Linked DNA regions of Homo sapiens. The protein of the gene in region 2 interacts with the protein of the main gene of each other region in a biochemical or structural test. Each region holds a gene or a part of one and is shown on either strand. Other genes may lie near its edges.

What was found.
Region 1: the proteins of KIRREL1 (region 2) and TJP1 form a complex in vitro, tested with the Homo sapiens proteins (3 studies listed by BioGRID and IntAct, with this or other methods).

The regions. Positions count from the first base shown.
Region 1 is NC_000015.10:29,710,852-29,714,770, reverse strand, and holds part of TJP1 (tight junction protein 1), read left to right. Parts: intron 1-2,360; coding exon of another isoform or gene 2,361-2,411; intron 2,412-3,770; coding exon 3,771-3,919. UniProt on the Homo sapiens protein: TJP1, TJP2, and TJP3 are closely related scaffolding proteins that link tight junction (TJ) transmembrane proteins such as claudins, junctional adhesion molecules, and occludin to the actin cytoskeleton.
Region 2 is NC_000001.11:158,080,496-158,084,414, reverse strand, and holds part of KIRREL1 (kin of IRRE-like protein 1 isoform 1 precursor), read right to left. Parts: intron 1-3,919. UniProt on the Homo sapiens protein: Required for proper function of the glomerular filtration barrier. It is involved in the maintenance of a stable podocyte architecture with interdigitating foot processes connected by specialized cell-cell junctions, known as the slit diaphragm.

The DNA.
Region 1 (3,919 bases), on a different chromosome or scaffold from region 2:
AGGAGATCGAGACCATCCTGGCTAACACGATGAAACCCCATCTCTACTAAAAATACAAAAAAATCAGCGGGGCGTGGTGGCGGGCTCCTATAGTCCCAGCTACTCGGGAGACTGAGGCAGGAGAATGGCGTGAACCCGGGAGACAGAGCTTGCAGTGAGCCGAGATCGTGCCACTGGACTCCAGCTTGGGCAACAGAGTGAGACTCTGTCTCAAAAAAAAAAAAAAAAAAAAAGGCTGGGCGCAGTGGCTCACGCCTGTACTCCCAGCACTTTGGGAGGCCGAGGTGGGTGGATCATGAGGTCAGGAGATCGAGACCATCCTGGCTAATATGGTGAAACCCTGTCTCTACTAAAAATACAAAAAATTACCTGGGCATGGTGGCAGGTGCCTGTAGTCCCAGCTACTCTGGAGGCTGAGGCAGGAGAATGGCATGAACCCGGGAGGCGGAGCTTGCAATGAGCCGAGATCGCGCCACTGCACTCCAGTCTGGGCGACAGAGCCAGACTCATCTCAAAAAAAAAAAGGAGTATATTTAGGTCTAAAAAGTAAGTTGTTTTGCCAGGGAATCAATCAAAATGCATGTTTGCTTTCTGTGTTAATTTGTTTTTCTAGAAAGAAGACTTAGCTTATTTGTGATGTATAACTTTAGGGTGTAGAACATTGCCTTGCATGCAGTAGGGGCTCAGTAATTGTTGAGTGAATGAAGCTCAAAACAGGGCATGGTATACTAGGTGCATCCACCACCCTTCTTTTCATTAACACAGCTCTGGAAGGAACCTGTATTACCTGGTCATTGTTTTCACAGGGATATATTGTGAAACAGATGACATCTGTCTTTGTGAATTTACTCAGAACTCAGTTTGATTTTACTCCCTGCTGCTGTGAGAGAGAAAAGTATAGTTTGGGCTGGATACCAGTATACTTTTTTTTCCTTTGTAGTGTGAAATTGAAACTCTTTATAATTGTGCTGCATTTTCCCATATAGGTATTTAATGGTTAGAGAAATGGAAAGGAGAATAAGGGTCATGGAAGATAACTAAGAGGGTAGTTGTTTCTGTAAGTTTCCCTTGTAATGCTTTTTCATACTCTTGTCCAATGAGTACAACTTCATCAACTGGAAAATAGCTTAAAATATAGGATTCTGTCCTGCATTTCAAAACCATTTACTGTTTGTCACTAAATAAGACTGCCTTCAGGCATTTCTTTCTTTCAGTAAATACAGGAGTAGCAAAATTTTCTTCCTTCAGATGATGTGTGCTTATGCTTCACTTAAAAACACACCTCAGAAATGGTGAGAATTAGATATGGAAAATAATCTTTGTTAGCACAGGACAGATGCCCCAGGAAGCAAGCAGATATTACCCAGTCTAACAGTTCCATAGAGCTGGATTAGAACTGGAAAGGTTAGGAGACAGTAGCTTAGACATTCACCTCCAAAGTAAATTAGAAGTTTCCAGGATTCTAAAACAGTGCAAGAAGAGCAGTGTCCCTCCAGGGCTGTGCACATGTCTCAGTCCAGAGATTGAGTCAACTTCTTCAGGACAACCAGGGATTTTTTGTTATCAAATCTACCTTTCAGGACTCAACTCACTATGTGAGACTTCCAGGTCTCAATAAATGATGGTGGTTTGTAGCTTTTAAAGAACTAAATGTGAGAGACTGATGTTCAGTTGTTTTTGTGTTTGTGAGACATCATTAGATGAGAGAGAGCCTGAGCATCAAGCATGCAGCTTCACCAGTAAGACTCCACCACCACAGGGCCCAGCTTACGATTGGAGATGGAGGAGGTCTTGCTAGAAAGGAACATGTGAAGCCTGGCCAGGTTTCAAGCCAGGCATATTTCTATCTCTCCATTTACCATTCCCCTCCCAGGGGCTCAATGTAGCTCTTCTGTTGTGTTACTTTTTCCTGTGTCTTCACTTGCAGAATTTCTTTGCCCAGCCTTTTTTTTTTTTTTTTTAATGGGACATGTCACTCCCACTTATTCAGAACCTGCTAATTATCCTTGATCACCACTCTTTGATTTGATAAATTTCTTTGCTCACTATTAGCAGCTGCAACAGAGGTGGAGAAGGAGCAAAGTTCAAACACATTGCTTTTCACTGCAGTAACAGTTAAAGTACATGAAGGATGGGCCAGCAGACGGGACATAACTAAGTGATTGTGTTTTATTTATCTTCAATTTCCTTGGCCAAATGAGAGTTAGTGATATGTTCCTTTATAGACCAAATTATGGTGAAATGGTGGATGTTGGTTGATATTTTTAAATGACATTTGAGTTCCATTTGCTGCAAATTTACTTAGTTAGATTGACCATTTTCTTTCATTTTTCTATTGCGCTTGCTTTGCCATCACCTAGATTTCTTGGCTCTTACACTAGCTATGACTACTTGAAAAGGAACGTCAAGTGGTAAGACTGGCAATTAATGTGAGGCTGTTCCATAAGGTGTCCCTCACTGTGTCACTGGCATTATGTGCACTTTCAGATTTTAATGTCATCATCAAGGGCTTAGTCTAAATTCATGAAAGCAAGATAAAAAAGCCAATCATAAGACTTCTTCAATGAAAATTTATGAAAATGACCAGGAGTATTCCAAATGTATATGTTATTGTTGGTGCACATAAAGCTAGTGCAGCTTTGGCATTCAGCAGTAAGGTTTAGATGGCAATGTTGCAATTATGGGTCTTTTAAAAAGATTTGTGTGAATTTTGTGTTACATATTAACAATTGGCAATCTGAAAAAATAAACATACATGGCACAATTTGACTTAAATGAACCTTGTAAAATAAAGCAGGATCTGCTGCTCTAGCAGTCATTTAACCAAAAAATGGACCTGGTAACTCAAGGGGAAATTTTAAAGTAAAAGCTCCAGTTTTTTTAGTTTTACTGAAACGCAGATATGCCCATTGTCTGTGGCTGCTTCAAGGCTATAACCGCATAATTTGAATAGTTCTAACAAAGACTGTATGGGCCAAAAGACCACAAACATTTACTCTCTGGTGTTTCAGTGAAAAAGTTTGCCAACCCCTAGTCTGTGACATCTGTTTTTATGGTGCTCCGAGTATGCCAGATGCCAGATACAAAATCAGAAGTGGGTCTAGGGCCGGGTGCGGTGGCTCATGCCTGTAATCCCAGCACTTTTAAGAAGCAGAGGCAGGCGGCTCACTTGAGGTCAGGAGTTCAAGACCAGCCTGGACAACGTGGTGAAACGCCATCTCTACTAAAAGTACAAAAATTAGCCAGGCGTGGTGGCTGGCATCTGTAATCCCAGCTACTCGGGAGGCTGAGGCAGAAGAATCACTTGAGCCTGGGAGGCAGAGGTTGTGGTAAACTGAGATCGCGCCACTGCACTCCAGTCTGGGCGACAGAATGAGACCCTGTCTCAAAAACAAAAAAAGTGGGTCTCAGGAAAATTTGTGCCATGATATGTTTTCAGAATATTTGCAAGACTTTCTTAAATCTGTCAACATTACTATCTTTTGTAAATAACAATTAAACTATACCCAAAATTTCACCTGCCTTTGGTTGCCATCTTCTGGATGTTTTACTAATATTCTTAAAGTTTTTGTGTGTCTGGACATTTCTTGTGCCGATGAATGGTCGAATCTGTTTTTATATTTTGGTAGAGTAGCTACCCATACTCATGAGAATAAATTGTGAAATTTCTAGTTTTTTTTTTTAACTTAGAGATACATGGAGAAATGAGAACTTGTTTTGTAAATGTGAGTCCATTTTCAGGTGTTGGCATTTTCTTCATTTGTTAACAGGGGAAAGCCTCCTGAAGCTGATGGTGTGGATAGATCATTTGGCGAGAAACGCTATGAACCCATCCAGGCCACTCCCCCTCCTCCTCCATTGCCCTCGCAGTATGCCCAGCCATCTCAGCCTGTCACCAGCGCGTCTCTCCACATACATT
Region 2 (3,919 bases):
AGAAAGCAGAGCAAAGTCAGTGCAGGGTGTGGCTAACACTTCCCTGAAGACCAAAACTCCTGCCTCTGGAAGCATCCTTCCACCTGCATGTGCGCCTCTAGGTAGGCGGTACCACCCTACCCCCTAATCTACAACCACTGTCTTCATTGCTCTTGTGGTGGCTTCCTCTAGGTCCTCAGCTCACACATCTTTCCCAGTCCTTGTCTGCTTTTCTTTCCTGGCCTATAATATTTTCTGGTACTCCATGCCCCTACTGGTTTATTGTTTGTTTGTTTGTTTGTTTTTGAGATGGAGTGTCACTCTGTCGCCCAGGCTGGAGTGCAGTGGTGCCATCTCAGCTCACTGTAACCTCCACCTCCTGGGTTCAAGCGATTCTCCTGCCCCAGCCTCCCAAGTAGCTGGGATTATAGGCGCCCACCACTGCTCCCAGCTAATTTTTGTATTTTTAGTAGAGAGTAGGGGTTTCACCATGTTGGCCAGACTGGTCTCGAACTCCTGACCTCTCAGGTGATCCACCTGCCTCAGCCTCCCAAAGTGCTGGGATTACAGGCGTGAACCACTGTGCCTGGCTCCATACCCCTACAGTTGCTCAGAGCTGCACACTACAGATGGAAGCCTCAAACTTAAGAAAGGGCTGGGCTATCTCAGGCCCTGAGTACAGCTCATAGTCTTGGGAGTCTGGCTCGGAAAGGTGGCTACCTCCATAGCACTTCTCCCATCCTTCCTCCTGTCTGCTCCTCTGCCCTGGAGCAGACAGATGGGCTGGCCTATTACAGTAACCTCCATGTCACACTGCTAGCAGGTTATTTTTCCCTTCAGCACAGCTAAGTATGTGCCACTCCCCTGCTCAAGCACCTTCAATGGCTACAACTGCCTAGGGCATAAGTTCCAAGCATTTCGGCCTCCTGTTCAGGGTCCTCAAGCCAAGACCTGCATTGCAGTGCTTTCCATATGGCATGCCCTTCTCCCACAGCTTCTATTGAAGTGCTTCCTATCCTGTTCAAATCCCAGTTGATGCACAAGGCTTTCCATGCTGTAGCCCACCCCCACCATGGTGGCCCCCACCAGTCACTCAGAGCTCTTAGCGCCTTGGATTTTGTTTACTTATAACAGTTATCGAACCCTGCCCCAACCAAAACTGTGATCCCCTGGAAAAACAGCAACCCTGTCTCACTAATATTTATATGGTCACCAGTGCCTAGAATGTGACCAAGTAGGCTCTTGCTAAATGTTTAAAGAATTCAATTGACCGATGTATGATGTTGCAAACAAGGGGGGCTCTCCCTCCCCTATCTCCATAGGCTTCTAAGACAAACCAGACTGTAAGTTCCCTGAGGGTAGCGGCTGCTTCTGATATACCATCAACACTTCAATGTCTAGCCCAGGGCTTGGGTGATCACAGGTGCTCAGGGATATTTGCTGAATTAATGAATGGATACTGATGAAATAAAGGCAGAAGGATTTTGATTATAATTTTTCTGGTCCCCCCAGTGTTCATCAACCATAAATGAGAAAGGAACTCCTGGGCTCAAGCAATCCTCCCACCTCGGCTTCCCAAGTATCAGAAACTACAGGTACACACCATCATGCTTGGCTAATTTCTATTTTTTGTAGAGACGAGGTTTCGCTATGTTGCCCAGGCTGGTCTGAAACTCCTGGGCTCAAGCAGTCCTCCTACCTCAGCTTCCCAAAGTGCTGGGATTACAAGCATGAGCCAGCGTGCTCCACCGATAAAAGATTTTGTTTGCTTCTTTCTGGGAAAGACAAGAAAGACCCAGAGGAGGGTCCAGAGGGAACACTCGAGAGGAGTGTGCAGAGGGAACACTCAAGAGGAGATCTTGGGAGACCCACGGTGCCCAGTGGTGGACAGGGCTGTTCTAGAATTTACACAATGAAGGTCTCTATGCTGGGGTTTCCAGTAGAAACTACTCGAAACCTGTCTTAGCATTCTGTTCAACTCATGTGTGCCTAGTGGTATAGTGGAAAAAGAATAAAACTTAGATTCAGACTGCCTGGTTTCAAATCCTGGCACCTTTGTTTACCTGCTGTGTGATCTCGGATGAGTTCCTAAAATCACTGAGTCTCAGTTTCTTCATCAGAGAAGAAACCAAGACATAACCATACTCACTAGAGCCTCATGAAGGTCAGATGAGATACTATACATAGACTATGATGTGCAGGGCATGTGTGAGGTATGGAATGTATTAGCCTTACTGCCTGGACGAGAGTAGCAGTGGCTCCAACTCCTGCCTGGCTAATTATCCTCTGAATCCCTGGCTCTTCCTCCTTGTTCTGTGGTGTATCTGGTTCCAATGCCAGATGGGGACAGGTTTGAGGATGGGGATGGGGAGCAGCTTGAAAAGTAGAGAAAGGTGGAGAGAAATGAATAAAGAGCTGCTGCTCAGGGCCTCCTGGTCTGCTCAGGCCCCTCTAAAGTCACATGTTGCTGCCACACCCAGGAGGAAGATCCTGGATGGGCAGAGCCCCGAGCAGACAACATGCCCAGGTGTGTGCCCGGGTGTGTGAAGCCCCTCCGCTGGGAAGGCATCAGCTTCCTCTACCCTGGGAATGCCTCCTGCCCCTTTGTTCATGCAAAGACTACCCATCTGTCACCTCTGCCAGCAGTCTACCTTTCTCTGAATTTTCCAAACTCTCTGCCCATCCTCCGTGAGCTCATCCCTCATATATGAGCTCGTCCCTCATATATGGGACAAATGACAATAAAGCTGTTAAGGTGCCTGCTGAGCCAGCTGTTAAAGGGCATGTGTCCATGTGTGCATGTGTTTATAAGCAAGTTTTTATGGTTTGTGACTTAAATCTGTATATCAATATGCTCATGTGCCTCCCCAAACTCATGTGCCCCTGAGTCTGTGGTCAAAAAAGCCTCAGTCTCCTTGTTTATAAAACTTCAAAAATACAATGGACACCTACTCCCCTGATTTTGCAAAACAAAATCAAGAAGGTGAAGCCAACTGTAAATGGTGGTGGGATCGACAATAACTTCTGCCACTCAGTGAACGTTCACCTTGTGTCAGCCAAAGTGCCTCCTGTATATGACTTCATTTAATCCCTACCACAAAGTATATTTCATTATTCCTTTCATGGTAAATATATTAACCCCAATTTACAGATAAGGAACGGAGGCTCGAAGAGGATAAACAAATGTGCTCAGAGACAGGAGAGTGAGTTAGAGGGCAGAGCTAGGATGTGGACCAGGCTTGCCTGACCCAGAAGTCATGCTCATCACCATGGTTTTGGAGGTCTGTATATCTATGTTATGTCTGCATCTGCGGGGGAGTGGGAGGCTTCTTTTCAAAGTCCTACCCTAAGGAAGAATGACAGAGGCCATTTTGTGAAGAGGGCCCCTGGCCTGGGGAGCTGGGGGGCTGCTGAGGGGGATGGCTGGGGAGGAGAGGAGTCTATAAGGCTGACATCATGCAGGGAGGCTGATACCAGGCACTGGGCACAGCCCACTCCTCATTTCTGCCCTGCCTAGTCTCTGGGTCCCCCAGCTGCCATGAGCAAAGGCTGTGGGTAAGCAGGTACGCAGGAAGGGATGCAGGAAGTGTCATGCCTTCTTATTGCCTCCGTGTGCTGCAGGTGGCAGGGTGTTTGAGAATTTAAGAGAAAGACAAGGAGAGGAAAGAGTGAAGGGAGAAGGGCCTCCTGGTCTGCTCAGGCCCCTCTAAGGTCACATGTTGCTGCCACACCCGGGAGGAAGATCCTGGATGGGTAGAGCCCCGAGGAGACACCATGCCCAGGTGTTTGCCCAGGCGTGTAAAGCCCCTCCAGCTGCACTAACCGTCCCTGTCTCTCTTTCAGCTTAAAGTTACTCCTGGGGTCTCTCCCTGTTCTCTCATCCACCCAAGTCACCCAGGCAGGCCAGCAAGGACCATACCTTCAATACCCACCATGCCCT